2 separate regions of the Homo sapiens genome follow, and region 1 is linked to region 2. Evidence: fine-mapped expression QTL. Tissue or cell type: skeletal muscle. Region 2 holds a variant in brackets; the other region holds the start of a gene. All regions are shown on one strand. Distances are from middle to middle.

What was found. PIP is the estimated chance that this variant, and not a neighbour inherited with it, causes the effect.
Region 1: it holds the start of RWDD4, and the variant in region 2 is fine-mapped to the expression of RWDD4 in skeletal muscle (GTEx, PIP above 0.99).

The regions. Positions count from the first base shown.
Region 1 is chr4:183,653,452-183,663,646 of GRCh38, reverse strand. It overlaps RWDD4 (RWD domain containing 4), which reads left to right and starts at 4,462. Exons shown (of 8, transcript NM_152682.4): 1 at 4,462-4,718; 2 at 7,686-7,766. The coding sequence starts at 4,695. TRAPPC11 (trafficking protein particle complex subunit 11) reads right to left here and starts at 4,354. Exons shown (of 30, transcript NM_021942.6): 1 at 4,200-4,354. It also overlaps the pseudogene RNU6-479P. RefSeq lists silencers at 4,043-4,332, 4,703-4,912, 4,727-4,947 and enhancers at 3,679-4,466, 4,423-4,552, 4,467-5,255.
Region 2 is chr4:183,614,121-183,624,767 of GRCh38, reverse strand. No RefSeq gene overlaps it. Among named protein-coding and RNA genes, the nearest start is that of RWDD4, 40 kb to the left of the region's middle. The variant C/A (reference allele first, on the strand shown) is at 5,171.

The DNA.
Region 1 (10,195 bases), 39 kb before region 2:
ATACAATCCCAACACTTTGGGAGGCCGAAGCAGGTGGATCACTGGAGGCCAGGAGTTAAAGACCAGCCTAGCCAACACAGTGAAACCTTGTCTCTACTAAAAATACAAAAAATTGGTTGGTCGTGGTGACTCACGCCTGTAATCCCAGCACTTTGGGAGGCCTAGGTGGGCAGATCACGAGGTCAGGAGATCGAGACCATCCTGGCTAACACGGTGAAACCCTGTCTCTACTAAATATCCAAAAAATTAGCCGGGCGTGGTGGTGGGCGCCTGTAGTCCCAGCTACTCAGGAGGCTGAGGCAGGAGAATGGCGTGAACCCGGGAGGTGGAGGTTGCAGTGAGCCAAGATGGCGCCACTGCACTCTAGCCTGGATGACAGAGGGAGACTCTGTCTCAAAAACAAAAAACAAAAAATTAGCTGGACATGGTGGCACACACCTGTAACCCCAACTACTTGGAGGCTGAGGCAGGAGAATCACTTGAACCCAGGAGGCGGAGGCTCCAGTGAGCCAAGATCACGGCACTCCACTCCAATCTGGGTGACAGAGTGAGACTCTGTCTCAAAAAAAATAAAATAAATAAAATAATCATTACAAAAAGGCAAAAGGCTTTGAGTATCTGCAAACTGTCAAACAAACAGAAGAGAGAAAAAGGGAAAACTTTAATTCCTGAATTAGATCTATTAAAATGTAATAACTATATGACATTTAAGAAAAAATCTTTCATGTTAAAAATGAAGTCAACTTTAAGACAAATCGGCATTTTCAGTAATGTCTCAAAATGCACACAGAACTTTGAAATTAGTAGACCAAGAAAGCAAGAAGGTGATAAAATTAAAATAGATCTACATGATCTATTTCAACTATAAAAGAAAAATATATTGAAAGAAAAATATAAAAGAAAAACAGTTGACTTACATATAATAAACTTCCCCTAATTTCTCTGTAATTGCTAATATTGAATTTCTGAATACCTAGGATATTATTAAAATAGCCTTTAATTTATGTAATTATCTAAATAGTAGCTATGTTGTCTCATTTCCCACAATATAAAATTTACTCTTTAAAGAAAAATCTGTAAGGGAAAAACTAACAATGAATGGAAACCTCTCGGAGGATGTTTCCACTGCGTCCTTTAGCTAAGAATCAGTCCATAATAAATCTAACGTATGCCCTGACTTTATAAGTATATAAAACTATGTTTATCCCGAACAAGACTGTCATTATATTTTTAATATAATCTTACTTGCAAAAGGATGTAACAACATGAGGTTCTTTTTTTTTTTTTTTTTTGAGACGGAGTATCACTCTGTCACCAGGCTGGAGTGCACTGGCCCAATATCAGCTCACTACAACCTCCACCTCCCGGGTTCAAGTGATTCCCCTGCCTCAGCCTCCCTAGTAGCTGGGACTACAGGCATGCACCACCACACCCAGCTAATTTTTTGTATTTTAGTGGACAGGGTTTCACCATGTTGGCCAGGATGGTCTTGATCTCGTGACCTCAGGCGATTGCCAGCCTTGGCCTCCCAAATGAGGTTCTTTTAAAAGATAATCTATACCAGCATATTACAGAGAATTCAGGTAAGGCACAAGTGGCTCATGCCTATAATCCCAGCACTTTTGGAGGACAAGGCCAGAGGATTGTTGAGGCCAGGAGTTCAAGACTGGCCTGGGAAACATAGTGAGATCCTGTCTCTAAAAGAAATAAAAAAGAAAATAGCCGGGCATGGTGGTGCTCACTTGTAGTCCCAGCCACTTGGGAGGCTGAGATGGGAGGATCACTTGAGTCTAGGTGTTTAAAGTTACAGTGAACTATGATTGTGCCACTGCACTCCAGCCTGGGTGACAGAGCAAGATTGTGCCACAAAAAAAAAAAAAAAAAAAAAAGTTATTCCAAACAAAATTATCACTACATTTTAAATATAATCTTATTTGAAAAAGAATGTGTCATGAGGCTCTTTTAAAAGGTAATCTGGCCGGGCGCGGTGGCTCACGCCTGTAATCCCAGCACTTTGGGAGGCCGAGGCGGGCGGATCACAAGGTCAGGAGATCGAGACCATCCTGGCTAACATGGTGAAACCCCGTCTCTACTAAAAACACAAAAAATTAGCCGAGTATGGTGGTGGGCGCCTGTAGTCCCAGCTACTCGGGAGGCTGAGGCAGGAGAATGGCGTGAACCCGGGAGGCGGAGCTTGCAGTGAGCGGAGATCGCGCCACTGCACTCCAGCCTGGGCGACAGAGCGAGGAGACTCCGTCTCAAAAAAAAAAAAAAAAAAAAAAAAAGGTAATCTACACCAGTATACCAGTATATTATGGAGAAGTCTAACACAATCTTTGTGAAAAGTGAGGCACACTTAGGCTAATACCTAATCCCCAAAACATGGAATATTTTCAACTGAAAGGTTAATTTAGGAAAGACTATTAGTCTTCTCATGTTTACATACTGAAAGAACAACAGGTATTCAATAAATGATTTGCAAAGCTTGCCAGAAATGTCTACAACAGATTGTTTTAGAATTGTTTAAATATTTTTAGGACAGGATTAAGTTATGAGGGCAAAGGATTGCATGTTCAGAGAAAGAAACAGTCTAGTTCTGGGTAATGTAGGAATGAAAATTAAAAAGGGGTGACCAGGCTGGGTACAGCGGCTCACGCCTGTAATCCCAGCACTTTGGGAGGCCAAGGCGGGCGATTCACGAGGTCAACGGTTCAAAACCAGCCTGGCCAATAGGGTGAAACCCCGTCTCTACTAAAAATACAAAAATTAGCCGGGCATGGTGATGCGTGCCTATAGTCCCAGCTACTCGGGAGGCTGAGGCAGGAGAATGGCTTGAACCCGGGAGGCGGAGATTTCAGTGAGCCGAGATCGCACCACTGCACTCCAGCCTGGGCAACAGAGCAAGACTCCGTCTCAACAACAACAACAAAAAACAAGTGACCAAAATACAATACGGGCCCCTTTGCTTAATATGAACGAGTCTAGACTAGAGGCCATTTCCTGTAATAACTCCAGAGGCCCAAAAGACATAGCTGTGGTCTTTAAATATGGAGTTGAAATAAGAGGAACTAAAAATGACTGTCATCCAATAGAAATACAAGTCACATAAATAAATTAAAAATTTCTAGCAGTCATATTAAAAAGTAAAACGTGGATGGAATTCATTTTAATATTCAATTTAACGCAGTACAGTATGTCCAAAATATTATCATACTGACAATAATATAAAAGTTATTAATGACATATTTTACCTTTTTTTGTACTGAGTCTTCAAAATCTGGTGTGTATTTCACACTCACAGCACATCTCAATTCAGACTAGCCTATTTCAAATGCCTGATGTAGCTACTGGCTACAGAACTGGACAGCAGAGATCTAAATTATGGGAAATGTGTCCCAAAATTGCTGCACGAAAATTGTATCAGAAAGTCTTGCCACATTCTCCTATGTCACCTGAAATGGTCGTGCTTATTCTGCAGCAAAGGAATTTGAATGAGAACCCCGATAACGCACAGGCGCAGATCGAATGGATTTCAATGACAGGCTGGAAGGAGAAATTTTCAGATATCCAATGGAGCAACCAACGAAACTATACACGAAAGGAGGCGCAGCTATAGAAGGTGAATAATGGATGGGAGATCAAGTAATGCAAGGGAAGTAAACTGGAAACTAGCGTGAAAGATAAGAAAGGTGACCCAATCAAATTGGCAACTAAAAAAACCCCAAAACCTAATGTGGTTACTTTTTTTTTCTTTTAACTAACTGGAAGTTCAGGGTGTTAGGACACAAGGCTGCTAAGAATGGGATTCAGAGATGTTCAACTACAAAACGAACAAAAGAGGAACGACAGTGTGGGGACGAAATGATGTTTCGATGTTAAAGATGAGAAGCAACAATCCAACGTAGGAGAAACACCGTCCCCATGGTCCCAGTATCTGTTCTGGTAGCTCCAGTGAGGAAAGGTAGAGAAATAACCTTGCAGTCCCTAAAGGCAGATATCTTCCTCCTCTTATTCCCCCGTCTTAAACCTGGGAGGCCCTAGAAACGGGTGCGTCTTTCCTCGGGTCTAAAAGAGAAGTGCCAGGATTGCACCCGTCGATGGGATTGCAAAACGCAGGCCCCCAAACCAGCATTGTTAAGAGCTAGCTCTCTTCCTCGGCGGTCCCGCCTGGCCCCGCGGGTCTCCGGGCCCGGACTCACCCAGGCCCCACGCCCCGGGCCCGCTGCAGCTGAGGCCGGTCGCCGCCAGCCGGGAGAAGACGAGGGGAGGCGGGGGGATGTCACAGAACGCCGTGGCCCGTCCCCACCGCCGCAGCCCCACAGCCAGTTCCAACAGGCGAGACTTCCCTGTACCCACCTCCCCCGGCACAGGAAGCACTTTCTGGGCCTGAGTGACCGCGCTCTACACCAATCGCTGTCCCGGAACTTTACGCCGCTCCTCCAAGCGTCAGGGAGACGCTGCACTTCCCAGGCCCCACCAGCCGCGGCTCCGGCTCGTAGCCCACAGCCCACTGCCGGCGGCTGGGCGCTGCCGAGGCTCGGGGCGCGCGCAGTTGGCGTCTGCCAGTGCCAAGACTGTGCCGCCCCCACAGCCGAGGCGCGAAAGGGGGACGCCCGGCCTCTGGGCCGCTGCCTTCGCTTTCTCTTCGTTGTTGCGAACGCCGTCCGCTCAGGAGGCGCCCCGCGACCGGCGCGATGAGTGCCAACGAGGACCAGGAGGTGAGCCCCCCGGCTCAGGGCCCTCTCCCAGCGCGGGCGCGGCGCGCAGCCCCGGGCCCCCGTGAGACCTGGTGCCCGGACAGCCTGCCCGGCACGTGCCCTGTGCCCTCGGAGCCGGCCGGGGTGCCCCGAGTTCACCGGCGTCCCACCCAAGCGCGCGTGAATGGCCAGGAGTCCGCCTCTGCCACTCTTCCCCCCTCATTTTTCATTTTTGCAAATCCGGGAGTCTCCCCTGGTTACTTAATAACAGGGATGAGCGTCCTTGGTGCACGATCCAGTGCTCTTGGCTCTCCTTGAATCCCATGTGTTCAGTGCCTGTTTACTGAGTTAGGCTGATCACCTTTAAATTTTAGTCTGGTCATCTTTAAATCTCTTGGCTAGTAGAGGGCTAATTGAGTTAGTTACATTTCTCATGGAAGAAAATGACACTGGTGGTGCATCTGAGTTTCTGTCCATATTGTTTGGGGAAATCTTTTACCCATCTGTCTGTTTTGAGCATTCATGTACCACCTGAATTTATGGTTTATGCTCAAATATTTCCTTGTGAGATGCCATTTTGACATTGAATCATATAATATTAGAGTTGGGGGGTGGGTGCTACGGGCCATCTGTAGGGGAACCTTCTAACTTTGATAGGTGGGTCGATGATAGCCGCAGGGCTGCACAGTAAGTACGTGGTAGAATCGGGACTAGAAACCAGGTCTTATTGGGTGGTAGATAAGTTCACTGTTAATTTAAAGTATAATGCTTGAAACTTACTACTTTTACATGATAAATGTAATAGAATCTCTGGATTGGAAGTTAACCTTTAAAGGACCCAAAGTCCAACAAGCTAGCTAGTTGATATCTGAATCTCTTCTAAAATATTCTTGCCGGGTGAATTTCTAAGTGAATGCGTTAATAGCTTCTTCTCCCTGCAAAGCAAAGAACATACAGTGTAATGTTTCTCAGAGTTGGACCATAGTCCCCTACCTTAGAACCATTTAGATGGTTGCTAGAAAACAGATGCGTGCACTCCACCCCAGACCTACTGAATCAGAATTTCTGTGGTGGGCCCAGGAATCTCCAGTTTAACAAGAAAATTTCATTCTTCTTTCAGATGACCGATGTTCTGATCTTTGAAGATAGTTTCCTGCCCAGTTTCTCAGACCTTCTCTGAGGAAGTGGTTCCTTTTAGCTTGTCTTCATATATCCATTCTTTGTTAATCTCTTCACTATCCTGGAATCACGTGTTTGTGGACAGATTTTAATTTTTTAAATGTCCTGTTTCAAAATTGTGGCATCTTGCTGTTTTGTCTAGTTAAATTTACTGTCAACTGAAATCTTTTAAGTGCTTTATACAAAGCAATTTGTCTTTCATCTTCAACTTCTACATTTAGGTATCTGAGTATTGATACAAGTTCTACTTACCCTGCTAAATTTCATCATTAGCTTGCTTTTCAAAGACTTTTTGGATTCTTATTCAGCCATCAGCATTATTCACTGTCCCAACAAATTGTCATCCACAAATTTAATAAACTTGCCTCCTATTTTTGTACCTGTCCAAGTCATAAATTAAAATATGGGAAAGGATTAGGGACAGAAGGAGTAGTACTATATCTTGAGTAAGGTTTTTGTTCCAATCTAATCTTAGTTATTCTTGAATCCGGCTTGAATTTCTGTATTTTGTTTTTTTTTGTTTTTTCTGTAAAGGTAGCAAGAGAAACCTGTGGAGCCTGGCTGAAATCTATATAGTCGGTGTTTTATGCCTTTCTTCATTGTGCCAATCAAGTTTCCCTATCTAAGAAGGGTATATCTTGTTTTTCATATACTTACTAGGTCTTAGGGTCTACTCCTTAATGTCCCAGTTCCTCACACACTGTTTCTTCAACAATGTCTTTTTGCTGTTGTTGTTGCTATTTTTGAGACGGAGCCTCGCTCTGTAGCCCAGGCTGGATTGCAGTGGCCCGATCTCGGCTCACTGCAACCTCCGCCTCCTGGGTTCAAGCGATTCTCTTGCCTCAGCCTCCTGAGTAGCTGGGACTACAGGCGCCCATCACCACACCTGGCTAATTTTTGTGTCTTTAGTAGAGATGGGGTTTCACCGTGTTGGCCAGGCTGACCTCGAACTCCTGACCTCAGGTGATCCGCCCGCCTCGGCCTCCCAAAGTGCTGGGATTACAGATGTGAGCCACCGCGCCCAGCCAATAATTTCTATTCTAAAATTTTGACTGTAGATCAAGCCCACTTTCACCATCTTTAGTTTGTAGAATTCATGACATGCATCTTTTTGAAAAACTTAAACGTGTACCCAAGTGCAGTCTTGCTTTACTTCTTTTCTCAGGTATTCATCGGTGATCACAGTGATGAACTTCTCAGTTGTAATACCAAAATGTTCTAAGAACTATGTCCAAGCAAGGATTACTAGTTACATTTTCTCTGACAGTCCTGTCTCATCTTGGGTAGATACTTGTCAGCCTTTTTCTTAAGTTCTTTTTCTTGCCCTTAGGTGTTTTTTAGAGCTTTGTATCACTGTGGGAAGGATTACATATAAAAGAAATGTATGTAAATAATGGGAAAGTATTGTTTTTCATAGTTCTTATCTTTAGGTTTAATGCTCTTTGCACCCAGGTTCGTCTTTAGCCAAGTTCTAAGAGCGCTTGCTCTGGAGTGGCTTTACAGGGAGACTTCCTTGCTTCCCTAGGAAGGAGAAAATAATAGGAGCCTCTTGACAGGGTTGATTTGAGAAGTCAGCGCGATCATACATTGTACAGTGCTTAGTAGTCCCTGACACAGAGTTTGAAAGTAAGTATCATTGGTAGTAATATTGTCATGTGTTGCTGCATGCACCTATGTGGTAAGTATCTAAGGTTATATAAGTTAGTCAAGCTTTTACATAGTTGAGTGGGCTTGAATGAGAAAGTAAAGACCCTCTATTTCTAATTCATTTATACCACTAAACAAAACTCATTCAGTTCTTTATTTCAGATGGAACTAGAAGCATTACGCTCTATTTATGAAGGAGATGAAAGTTTCCGGGAATTAAGTCCAGTTTCTTTTCAATATAGGGTAAGACATGGCATGAATAAGAGCACTTAGAACTTTTCTAGAAAAGACTGAAAGTGGCTAAAAATGCTTATTTTGTTTTTTAAACTTGTTTAAATTTATTATGTCTGTATTTTCTGTAGCATTTAAATGGAAACATCACCCTAACATCAGTCATTTTTAACGTTTGAAAACTTAATTCAGAAGCTTAAAAAACCAAGATAAACTTGTTTTTATTGTACCAGAATCATAAGATACTAGAAATGGAAAAAACCTTAAAAATTATTTAATCTTATCTTTAACATAAAATAGTAACAGTAGGGCTGGGCGCGGTGGCTCTCACCTGTAATCCCAGCACTTTGGGAGGCCAAGGTGGGCGGATCACGAGGTCAGGAGATCGAGACCATCCTGGCCAACATGGTGAAACCCCACTGTCTCTACTAAAAATACAAAAAATTAGCCGGGCATGGTGGCGGGCGCCTGTAGTCCCAGCTACTCGGGAGGCTGAGGCAGGAGAATGGCGTGAACCCGGGAGGCAGAGCTTGCAGTGAGCCGAGATCAAGCCACTGCGACAGAGCGAGACTCTGTCTCAAAAAAAAAATAGTAACAGTATTTTATTTTGTAAATAAGTCATATAAACCTTTTATTCAAATGATTATAAGTAGGCGGGGCACAGTGGCTCACACCTTTAATCCCAGAACTTTGAGAGGCCGAGGCAGGCGGATCACCTCAAGTCTGGAGTTCTAGACCAGCCTGGCCAACAAGGTGAAACCCTGTCTCTACTAAAAATACAAAAATTAGCCACGCATGATGGTGCATGCCTGTAGTCCCAGCTACTTGGGAGGCTGAGGCAGGAGAATCACTTGAACCCAGGAGGCGGAGGTTCCAGTGAGCAGAGATTGTGCCACTGCACTCCAGTCTGGGCGACAGAGCGGGACTCAAAAAAAAAAACAAAAAAAACACACAAATAATTATAAGTAGCGGAATGGGGAAGTTTTTTTTGTAAAAGATTTACAGTTATTATTAACATTGTCACAGTTTAAACTATTAGAAATGATTCTTATGCATGATCGATGGATGACCATCACAGAAAATAAGTTTCTGTTCTCAATTCCCTTTCAAGCTTAACAGTCCTTACACCATCTCCAAGTATGTAATAACCATGGACCTCAAATGTCCAAAGTTAACAGTGGAGCTAAGTCCTAGGCCCTTCGGTTTGAATCCAGTTGCTACTCTCTCCTTAGCAAATGGGAGGTCGAGAATTTCCCTATACTCTCCTAAATATCTCATTCACAATGGCAGTGATTTAGAGCATGTTGTGCAGAATGCCCTAGGACATTTATATGTACTATAAGATGGACACTGACGTGACCCATAGGATGGATTTAAGAAGAATGATACATGAGATTAGGAGACAGTGTGTTGATAGTCAAAGGGCCAGGGGTAAAGTTCTTCCTGTGGCCTGAGTCACACCCCTCAGTTCTTGCACGGAATAGTCTGGTAGCCTCCTAGTTGACTTCCCCGGTTTAATACTTTCTTTAGCTTCCCCCTTATACTCCACCATGAGTCCTCCAACAGTACTAGTTGGCACTCTGAAGCATTTAAGTTGTCATCCCATTCTCTTCTTTAAAAATGTTTTTCTCTGGGTTCCTCTTGCCTATAAAATGAGGACGAAATTTTTTCACTTGACACTCCAAATCCTTCTGTTTGTTTCTGTCTCCAAACTTTCCCCTCCACTCACATGCCTTAGACATAATGGGTTGTGACATTTCCCCCCGTGTATTTTTTTCTAGTACTATGCTTTTGCACACATTGTTTGATCTTTCTCTCACCTCAGGTCCATTATTCCCCTGCCTCTCCTTTAAGGCCTAACTCAGGCCTTCTCTGTGATACATTAATATTTGGGCCATGTCTCCTGTCTCTGCTCTGACTTTGAATCAGAATTAGCCGTTCCCCATTTCTTCATACTTTGTTTTGTTACTTTTGAACTATTATTCATATTGCAGTTTTGTAAGTTATATAAATATCTGTCTGAAGACAGGAATAGCCTTGTCTCTATCTTTGTATCTTCGGTACCCAGCACAGTGTGAGGCATGTGATAATTTATTCCTAAATGCGCCATGAGTAAGGACGTAGTGATTGCATCAAGCAGGTAACTTTTATCACTTTTTATCATCTATATTTAAACATAAACCAATGACATCTATTATGCAGATAATCCTTATCCAGGTCTATCAGTAGATCCCTACATTTATTTTAATAACAATACAGAGGAGATTAGCATAGCCCTGTGTAAGGATGAGATGTTGATTCATGTATCATTCCACCGTTTTACTAGAAGATCACCATTTTGCAACCACCAGTATGATAATTGATTCAGTTACAGTTAAGGACTGTTAATGAAGGCTAAAACCTTTGGGTGAAAGGTTGTTGAGAAACAAGGTATTCATACA
Region 2 (10,647 bases):
GGGCGACTCATAGTCACCCACATTCACTCACACTTACTCACACTCACCCTCAGTCACACACACACCCATATACACCCACATACCTTTGCCTCGTCTGTGACTCCCTAACAATATTTCTCTAGCCTGGAAGTCCTCCCTTCCCTGACCCAGTTCTTTGGTATCATATGTGAGAGCATTATCAATAAATATAATGGGGGCCGGGCGCAGTGGCTCACACCTGTAATCCCATCACTTTGGGAGGCCGAGGTGGGTGGATGCAGGTAACTAAATCCACAGAAAGTGAAATCGCCGATAAGGGGGGATTACTATATATATGTACATGTATATATAGAGAGAAATACATTAGGAGAGAGACAGAGAAGGAGAACAGTAAAGTAAATATATGGAAGACTGGGCACGGTGGAGTTGGAGACCAGCCTGGCCGACATGGTGAAACCCCATCTCTACTAAAAATACAAAAATTACATGGGCGTGGTGATGTGTACCTGTAATCCCAGTTACTCAGGAGGCTGAGGCAGGAGAATCACTGGAACCTGGGAGGTAGAGGTTGCAGTGAGCTGTGATCGCACCACTGTACTCCAGCATGGGTGACAGTGAGACTCTGTAAAAATAAATAAACTCCAAAAAATAAATGTAATGCGTTTCAATTATTTATACAAAAATTTCAGGAAAAATATAAAATAAAAAATTATTATTTTATTTTATATTTCCACATGCTAATTTTAAAATTGTTGCAATAGGCCGGGCGTGGTGGTGGTGCACATCTGTAATCCCAGCACTTTGGGAGGCTGAGGTGGGTGGATGGCTTGAGCCCAGGAGTTCGAGACCAGCCTGGCCAACATGGCGAAACTACTACTAAAAATACAAAATTTAGTGGGCGTGGTGGCAGGCGCCTGTAATCTCAGCTACCCAGGAGGCTGAGGTGGGAGGATCACTAGAGCCTGAGGAAGTCGAGGCTACAGTGAGCCCAGATCACACTACTACACTAGAGCCTGGGCAACAGAGCAAGATGCTGCCTCAGAAAAAAAAAATTGTAACAATATAATGTGGACGCGTATTTATTTTCAAGACTGTTTAACTGTTGCCTCGGTCAACTCTGTGCTGAGATCTTCTTGCAAGCATGAAGTGAGCTCCCTCCCTCTGTAATTCTCACCTTTGAATGGCCGCACAGTTCCAGTTTGTTAACAGTGCTGGCTGCGTGGGTTCCACCCTTGGCTCTCCGGCTTTCTAAGCTGATGAGCTTGTGTGCTCCCTAACTTCTCTGTGCTTCAGTTTGTCCGTCTGTAAAGTGGGGACAGGAGCATGAGTCGCCACCTGGTGGGGTTTTATGTACAGTATTTTGTATTTTCAGTAGAAACAGGGTTTCACCATGTTGGCCAGGCTGGTCTTGAACTCCTGACCTCGGGTGATCCACCCACCTCGGCCTCCCAAAGTGCTGGGATTACAGGCATGAGCCACTGTGCCCGGCCCACAGAGTGTTTTCTATAGGGTCCTCCATGGTCACTATAGTTAGCTAGAAACTACAGATACTACTTAGCCCTGAGCTTTCTGAATGTCAAGGATAAAAGGGAAACAGTTTCATACTTTAAACAGGCAAAAAGAGAAACTCTACAACCTTTGGAAAAAATTAAAGCTTTTATAGGTTTTAATTGTAAGAATTTGCTCATATGAAGTTTCACAATTGGGATGCAGAGGTTTAAGCCTCCCACAAGTATAGTAATGGATTTCATAAGATTATTTCTTCTATTCATTTCATTTTTGAAGTAATTTCAGACCACAAACAATTGCAAAAAATGTACAAAGAGGTTGCTAATACTCTTCATCTAGATTCCTCAATGTTGTATTTGTTGTATTTTCCCATATATTCACTTTTTTTTATTTTTCTGAAATGGAGTTTCACTCTCGTTGCCCAGACTGGAGTGCAGTGGCTCAATCTTGGCTCACCTGCAACCTCTGCCTCCCGGGTTCCAGCGATTCTCCTGCCTCAGCCTCCAGAGTAGCTGGGATTACAGGCACATGCCACCACATCTGGCTAATTTTTGTATATTTAGTAGAGATGGAGTTTCACCATGTTGGCCAGGCTGGTCTTGAATTCTTGACCTTAGGTGATCTGCCTGCCTCAGCCTCCCAAAGTGCTGGGATTACAGGTGTGAGCCACCGTGCCCAGCCTCCCATATATTTACTTTACTGTTCTCCTTTTCTGCCTCTCTCCCAATGTATTTCTCTCTCTATCTCTCTCTATACACGTACATATATACAGTAATCCCCCCTTATCGGCAATTTTACTTTCTGTGGATTCAGTTGCCTGCGTCAACTGGGGTTTGACAATATTTTGAGAGAGAGTGAGAGACCACATTCGCATAACTTTTATGACAGTATATTGTTATAATTGTTCTTTTTATTAACTATTGTTGCTAATCTCTTACTGTGCCATGTTTCTAAACTGACTTTTACCACAGGTGTTCCCATACAGGAAAAATATAGTATACGCATGGATTGGTTCCAGACATCCGCTGGAGATCTTGGACTGTAAGAGGGAATTACATATTTCTGAACCATCTGAGAGATAGCTGGAGACACTATGCCCCTTTACTCCTGAACACTACAGTGCATACTTCCTAAAAACAAGAATGTTATTTTCTGTAACCACAGTGCAATGACCAAAATCAGGAAGTTAACATGAATACAGTAGTATTTCCTAATATACAAGACTTTTCAGATGTTATCATTTTTCTTAAATACCTTTATGGCAAAAGAAAAAAAGAGTTTTTTGGTTTCTTTTTTCTGCTCAGTGATCTTATCTAGGCTCAAATTTGTACCTGTCATCATGTCTCTTTGGTCTTTAATCTGGAACACTTCCTAAATCTTTCTTTGTCTTGGAAGCCCTTGACATTTTGGACAGCACAGGCCAGATGCTTTTGTAGAGTGTTTCTGAGTCTGGGGTTGCCTGTTCTTCCTCATTAGATCCAGATTCAGTATTTTCGGCAGGGACATCTCAGAAGTAGTAGTGAGTCCTCAGTGTATCCCATCAGGGGGCACAAGATATCTACTTTTCCCATTACTGGTGATGTTACCTTTGAATGCTTGGTTAAGGTAGCGTCTGCCGTTTCTCCACTGTAAAGTTACTATTTTTTATCTTTATAATTAATAAATACTTATAAGGAGACACTTTGGTGTCATAAAAATCTCTTGTCTCCTATCCAACCTGCTAGTTTCTTTGCTGACTCTTCCATAAAACAATTATGTCTACAACAATAGACAAGTGGTGATGTTCGATGTTCGAATTCCATTATTCCCTCTGCATTCATTTGTTGGCATTCCATGGTACTTCCCATTCTCCTCCACATATTAATTGACATCAGTACAGACTATTTCTTTTTTTTTTTTTTTTTTTTTTTGAGACAGTCTCGCTCTTGTTGCCCAAGCTGGAGTGCAATGGCGCGATCTCAGCTCACTGCAACCTCTGCCTCCTGGGTTCAAGTGATTCTCCTGCCTCAGCCTCCCAAGAAGCTAGGATTACAGGCATGTGCCACCACGCCTGGCTAATTTTTTGTATTTTTAGTAGAAACAGTGTTTCACTATGTTAGTCAGGCTGGTCTCGAACTCCTGACCTCAAGTGATCCACCCACCTCAGCCTCCCAAAGTGCTGGGATTACAGACGTGAGCCACCTCGCCCGGCCAGTGCAGACTATTTTCATGCTGGGTTAATTCTGTAATCCATTTATCATTACTTATTTTGCTGCTCAATTTCTCTCAGATTTGTCCAGTAAATGCCACATCAGGCTAGCACATCTGTCCTTTGACAGGTCCCCATGATGCTTAATTCTTTACTTTCTGCACAGCAATACTCACAAGGTTGTTTCTTAATGAGTTATTGGACAAAATCCTAAAATGTGGCTCCATGAAAACAGTTTTCTGGAGTGCCAAGACTCTGTGATCCAGAAACACTGCTATGGGCTTGCTTGATTCCAAGCTAAAACTCAAATAAATTATAGAGATGGGCATCCTTCCACCAATCCTCCGTAAATATTGCTTCTCCTAAGCAGGCTTTTTCTTTTCTTTTTTCTGCCCATTTCTGGTGTAAACAGGCTTTTTATGAAACCTGGACACCAGACAATTCAAGACTTTGTTTCCTGCCAAAGGTCAGCAACACTGTCCAATGTAACTTTTTGCAATGATGGAAGTGTCCTTTAGCTGTGTTCCCTGATAAAGTAGCCACTAGCCACATGTGGCTATTGACCACTTGAAATGTGGCTAGGGTGACGGAAGAACTAACTGTTCATTTAAACTAGTAAATTGTAATTTTCATTTACATAACCACATGTGGCTAGTGGCTGCCTTATTGGATACACAGGTCTAGAGGGAAGGTTTGCTATGGTGTTGATAGAGGATGGATTGAAATATAATAAAGATGAAATAATGAAATGTAGCCCTAAATGATTAAACAGTTAGAGAGTTCTGTGGCATTATTGAACATACACCACTTAAGTAGTTTGTATTTATTGCATTATTTAAACAGTAAATTGTAAAAGTACCACACTCCATTGAGGCCACTCGTAATTTGTGACAACATCATCACAGCGTTAGCTGATGGGATATTTGTCCCTGTTGTGTTTTTTTTTTTTTTTTTTTTTTTTGAGACGGAGTCTCACTCTGTTGCCCAGGCTGGAGTATAGTGGCGCCATCTCGGCTCACTGCAACCTCCGCCTCCCAGGTTCAAGCAAATTCTCCTGCCTCAGCCTCCCAAGTAGCTGGGACTACAGGCACGTGCCACCATGCCCAGCTAATTTTTGTATTTTATAGTAGAGACGGCGTTTCACCGTGTTGGCCAGGCCGGTCTTGAACTCCTGACTTCAGGTGATCCGCCCGCCTCCGCCTCCAAAAGCGCTGGGATTACAGGCGTGAGCCACCGCGCCTGGCCGTCCCTGTGTTTTTTCTTGCACGCAGATCATCTAAAAATTATTTCAAATCAGTAACATCTTTGGGCAATGATGAGGGAGGGGGACGGAAAAAACAAGCCCTATTTTATGTTCCCTCAACAATCTAAATGTTACTTAAGCTATGCTTTGTTTATGGTTGTCTGTATACTTTGTGGAAAGACAAACAGGACAGTCTGACCCTGAAGATATGGGTTGCCTGGCAACAATCTAAATGGGACCAGAACCTCCCC[C/A]CTCCCCCTGCAGGAGGGGCTGTGCCCAAATGGAACTTCTCACAAGGTCAACAGGTGCTGGCAACAGGCTCTCCAGACAGCGAACTGCCTGAACAGCTGTCACCTAAGCCCAGCCTGCCCGATGCCCAAGCAGACATTTTGTTCCCCCTGGCAAGGCCACTCGGGTTTGCCCTTTAAAAAGAGAACCCAAATGAGTGGGGGCGGGGCCTTGAGGCCTTTCCTTGCAGTCCGGGGCTGTCTTAGTCCAACTAGCCGGACCCAAGCGTCCCTCCGCAGAGGTCTGAGGGGTGGAGACTGATCTTGCGGCATCTCTGCGTGTGAGTGCCAGCCTGCACCAAAAGACGCACTGTTGTCTGCCCAAACCCTTTCAGTGACGCGTTTTGTAAAAATCATCTATGTTTTCCCCCAAATAGCTGTCATCAGTGAAAAGCATCAAAGAAAATCCAATATATGACCACAGAAGAGATAATGCAAAAACTAAAACTGTTCCAAAATAATGCAATAAATATGTTTTCTAACACATGCAAATCAATTTTCTAATAAGATTTGTATGTATGTGTTAGCAAACCTTTATTAGGAACTAAGAGTTAATTCAATGTTAGTTAAACAGTGTGTAGGAAATACTAAGTCAAACTTCTGGAAGTGATTGCGAAAGAAAATCAATGTTTCTTTGAAAACAGATAGTTACAGAGACAGTGATGGTTCATTATGTCTCAACTTGGCTTGGCTGTGGGGCCCAGCTGCTTGGTTAAACACTAACTTGGATGTTGCTGTGAAGGTATTGTGTAGATGTGATTGATACGTACAATCAGCTGACTCTGAGTAAAGTAGATTATCCTCTTGAATGTGGGTGAGCTTCATGCAATCAGCTGAAGGCTTTCAGAGCGGAGACTGAGCCTTTCCCGAGAAAAAAGGAATTCTGCCTCGAGCCTGCAGCACAGAAACTCTGAGTGAGTTTCCGGAGGGCTTGGCCTGCTTTGCAGATTTCGGACTCGAGACGGTAACATCAACTCCTGCCTGAATTTCCAACCTGTGGGCCTGTCCTAGAGATTTCAGACTTGCCGGCCTCCTCAATTACTTGAGCAATTCTTTAAAATCTCTCTCGCTGTCTCTTTGTATGTGTATGTATACATACACACATACATATATATCTCTTATTGGTTCTGTTTCTCCAGAGAACCCTGACTGATACGATTATTTATTCTATTAAGCATTTTACAGAAGTTATTTGAGCAAGAAATGTTTAACAGCTGAGTTTTTCTTTTTCTTTTTTTTCTTTTTTTTTTTTTGAGATGGAGCCTCGCTGTGTCACCAGGCTGGTGTGCAGTGGTGCGATCTCGGCTCACCGGAACCTCCGCCTCCCGGGTTCAAGTGATTCTCCTGCCTCAGCCTCCCGAGTAGGTGGGACTACAGGCGCCCGCCACCACGCCGGGCTAATTTTTTGTATTTTTTAGTAGAGACGGGGTTTCACCGTGTTAGTCAGGATGGTCTGGATCTCCTGATCTTGTGATCTAACCACCTCTGCCTCCCAAAGTGCTGGGATTACAGGCGTGAGCCACTGTGCCCGGCCTCTATATTTACTCTTACTGTAAATGTCATGAGTCAAAGAAATTCCTCAACTGCACTTGGTCACTTGTTTCAATGTCAAAATATATTTAATGTAATTTTGTCTGAAAGTCTAATTTGACTTTATTTTACTGTCATCTGAACATATTCTCTCTTATTTTCCACTCAATGTGAAGATTAAAGTCTCAATCTCTGTGGACTATACAGTAAAGGAATTAAGCCATATGTAATACTACCTTTTCCAGCCAACAGTAATTATCTTAATCAAATTTAGGATAATATGATATTTGGATGATTTCACATTTAGTTCTAAGTAGTAGTATTTAAGAAAAAAACAGGCTGGGCCCAGTGGCTCATGCCTGTAATCCCAGCACTTTGGGAGGCCAAGGTGAGTGGATCATTTGAGCTCAGGAGTTCGAGACCAACCTAGGCAACATGGTGAAACCCCGTCTCTACAAAAGACACAAAAATTATCCCGGTGTGGTAGTGCAGCCCTGTGGTCCCAGCTGCTCAGGAGGCTGAGGCAGGAGGATAGCTTGAGCCTAGGGTGGTCAAGGCTGCTTTGAGCCAAGATCAGGCCACTCTGTACTCCAGCCTGGGTGACAGAGCCAGACTGACCTTGAAAAAAAAGAAAGAGGAAGGAAAGAAAGAAAGAAGAAAGGAAGGAAGGAAGGGGAGGGAAGGGGAGGGAAGGAAGGGAAGGAAGGAAGGAGACAGAAAGAGAGAGAGGAAGGAAGGAAGGAAAAGAAAGAAAAAGAGAAGAAGGAAGGAACAAAAAGAAAGAGAAAGAAAAGAAAGGAAGGAAAGGAGGGAGGGAGGAAGGGAGGGAAAAGAAAGAGGAAGGAGGGAGGGGAAAAAAAGAAAGAAAAATAAAAGAAAAAAAGTAGGGCTTAGTGGCAGTCCCTGTATTGTTTTCACCTGGCAGGCCGCGTAGTGTGAGGAGAGTGGAGGGGTCTGGCCAGGAGGGGAGACTGAACACACACAAGAGGGATTAGTCCAATAGTGAAACATATTGAAAGTGGTGGGAGTCAGGCTTTTCATTGTTGGAAATGAGCTGCAGGGTGAATGATAAGACAACTAATCTGAACCTTATGGTGTTGGATTGGAATTAAAGGCATTGGTGCAAACTCATGGTTTTGAATATATAGATAAGGGTCGGGTGCAGTGGCTCACACCTGCCTTTAATCCCAACATTTTGGGAGGCCAAGGTCGGAGGATCACTTAAGGCCAGGAGTTTGAGACCAGCCTGGGCAACACAGTGAGGTCCCTTCTTTACAAAAAAATTAAGAATTAGCCAGGTGTGGTGGTGCACACCTGTAGTTCCAGCTACTTGGGAGGCTAAGGTGGGAGGATCGCTTGAGCCCAGGAGGTTGAGGCTGCAGTAAGCCAAGATCGTGCCACTGCATTCCAGCCTGGGTGACAGAATGACACCATGTCTCAAAAAAATTATATAGATAAATAAAGATATAATATATTATACAAATATGTGTCTATATTATGTATAATATGTAGATTTAAATGCAGATGAGTGTGTATAATCCTGGATTATGGGGGGGAGGTCCCCAATGTGGTCACAAGGGCGCTTACACAAAGCAGCCATGAGGAGCAGAATCAGAGAGAGGATAAACGGATGAAAGCAGAGGTCAGAGAGGAGGGAAGGTGCTATGCTGATGGCTTGAAGATAGAGGAGGGGGCCATAGCCCAGGAATGCAGGCGTCCTCCAGAAGCTAGAAGGCAAGGGAACGGCTTCTTCCCTGGTGCCTTTAAGAGGAACACAGGCCTGCCAGTGCCTTGATTTTAACCTAGTGACACCGATGGGGAACGTCTGGCCTCCAGAGTTACAAAATAATACATTTAAGTTGTTTTAACCCGCTAAGGTTATGGTAGTTTGTTATAGCAGCACTAATACAGTATGACACACAATAGGACACTAATGCAAGTGGCAACAAGTAAATGGAGAAAAAAATGATGCAGTTAGAAAAATCACTGTTTGGTCATTAATAAGGCAATAATTAAATCATCCAAAAATATCAATGGAAGCTAAAATCAGTGAGTCAATGTTTGATAAGAAATGGAATATTGAGGCTGGGCACGGTGGTTCACGCCTGTCATCCTAGCACTTTGGGAGGCCGAGGTGGGCGGTTCACCTGAGGTCAGGAGTTCCAGACCAGCCTGGCCAACATGACGAAACCCAGTCTCTACTAAAAATACAAAAATTAGCCGGGCGTGGTGGCGGGCACCTGTAATCCCAGCTACTCGGGAGGCTGAGGAAGGAAGATTGCTTGAACCTGGAAGGTGGAGGTTGCAGTGAACTGAGATCACGCCACTGTACTCCAGCCTGGGCAAGTGAGTAAGACTATCAGAAAGAAAGAGAGAGAGAGAGAAAGAGAGAGAGAGAGAGAGAAAGAGAGAGAGAGGGGGAGGGAGGGAAAGGAAAGAAAAGAAAGAAGAAACAAAGAAAGAAATGGGATATTTAAATAGTCCCACGTTTCCTTACTGATTCCAAAACATTAGTCATGCACAGTGGAGAAATCTGACAAATACCACCTTAATCAAGTTGATCTCAGCAGAAACGGACAAATCAGAATCATTTGCCACCTGATAGAAGGCAGCGAGAAGACAGCCTCTAGATTGAAAGTGAGTAGAGACATGACCAGTGAAAGCAGCGGGAGACCCTGTCCTGGATCCTTTGACTATAAAGGATACGACTGGTGCAATTGGAGAAACTGGGGTGGAATCTGTAGAGTAGGTGGTAGGAAGATTTCATTGTTAATTTCCTGATTTTGCTGGTGGTATGTTTGCTTGTGTAGGAGAATCTCCTTGTTTGTAGGAATTACAAACTAAAGAATTCAGAATGATGGGGCTTTGTGTCAGCATTACTCTCACATGGTTCAGGGAAAAAAAGTCCTACTATTCTTGAAAATTTCAGTATGTTCGTAATTGTTTGAAAATCAACAACAACAAAAGAGGTATAGGCTCCAGGGAAGATTTTGTCTCCTTGCCTTTCCTGGCTTTTGCATTTCTTTACTCAAGGCCCCTTCCTCAATCTTCAAAGCATCTTCGCCTCTCTCTGACCTCTGTGCCCATCCTTACATCTTCTCTCTGACCCTAACTCCACTGCCTCCTTCTTGTAAGTACACTTGTGATTACTTTGGGTTCATTAGGATTATCCCGGGTGCACATTGCTTATTTTTTTAAACAATATATCTTAAGGGTCTTTCCCTGTCAGATCTTTTAAACATAGTTTTCCTTACTATAAATAAACTGTAATTTATCCATTTCTCTATAAATTGTTTCTAATTATTAGCCATTGCAAACCATGTTATGTGGTATATTCCTGCACTTGTATTCTTCTGCATGTGTCAATATTTCTGTTAAGTCAAAGAACAATTGCTGTACGAAGACATGGGACATTTTGTTAGATGGTGACAAATTGTCATCCCAGAAGACTGTACTTTTAGACTCACTCTGGGTGCACTGCCGAGGAGTTAGCTCTGGAGCAACTAAGGAAAAAAAAAAAAACAGAAACAACTATACCTTTAGATTCCTACCAACAGGCAGAGACCATTCACCCATACATTTACTGAAACAGGATAGTATCAGCTTTCAAATGAGTAAAATATGGTATGTTGTCATCATTCTTTTTGCACTAATCTACTAGACTACTAGAGAATTTGAGCATCTTTTTATGTGCATAAGGGCCATGTGTGTTTCTCTGACTATTAGTATCCTTTACACACATCTCTACTTGATGTTTATGTTTTCCTATTTTTATATGCAACGTGGCAGCGAGACATGACAATCGGCAGTCAGCCTTTTAACTAAGGTCTGTGTTCATTTCTGTTGACCCTGAGCTTGGAGTTTCTCTGGGGCTCTGTTTGGGAGAATGGCACGCCTCTGACAATGCCTGT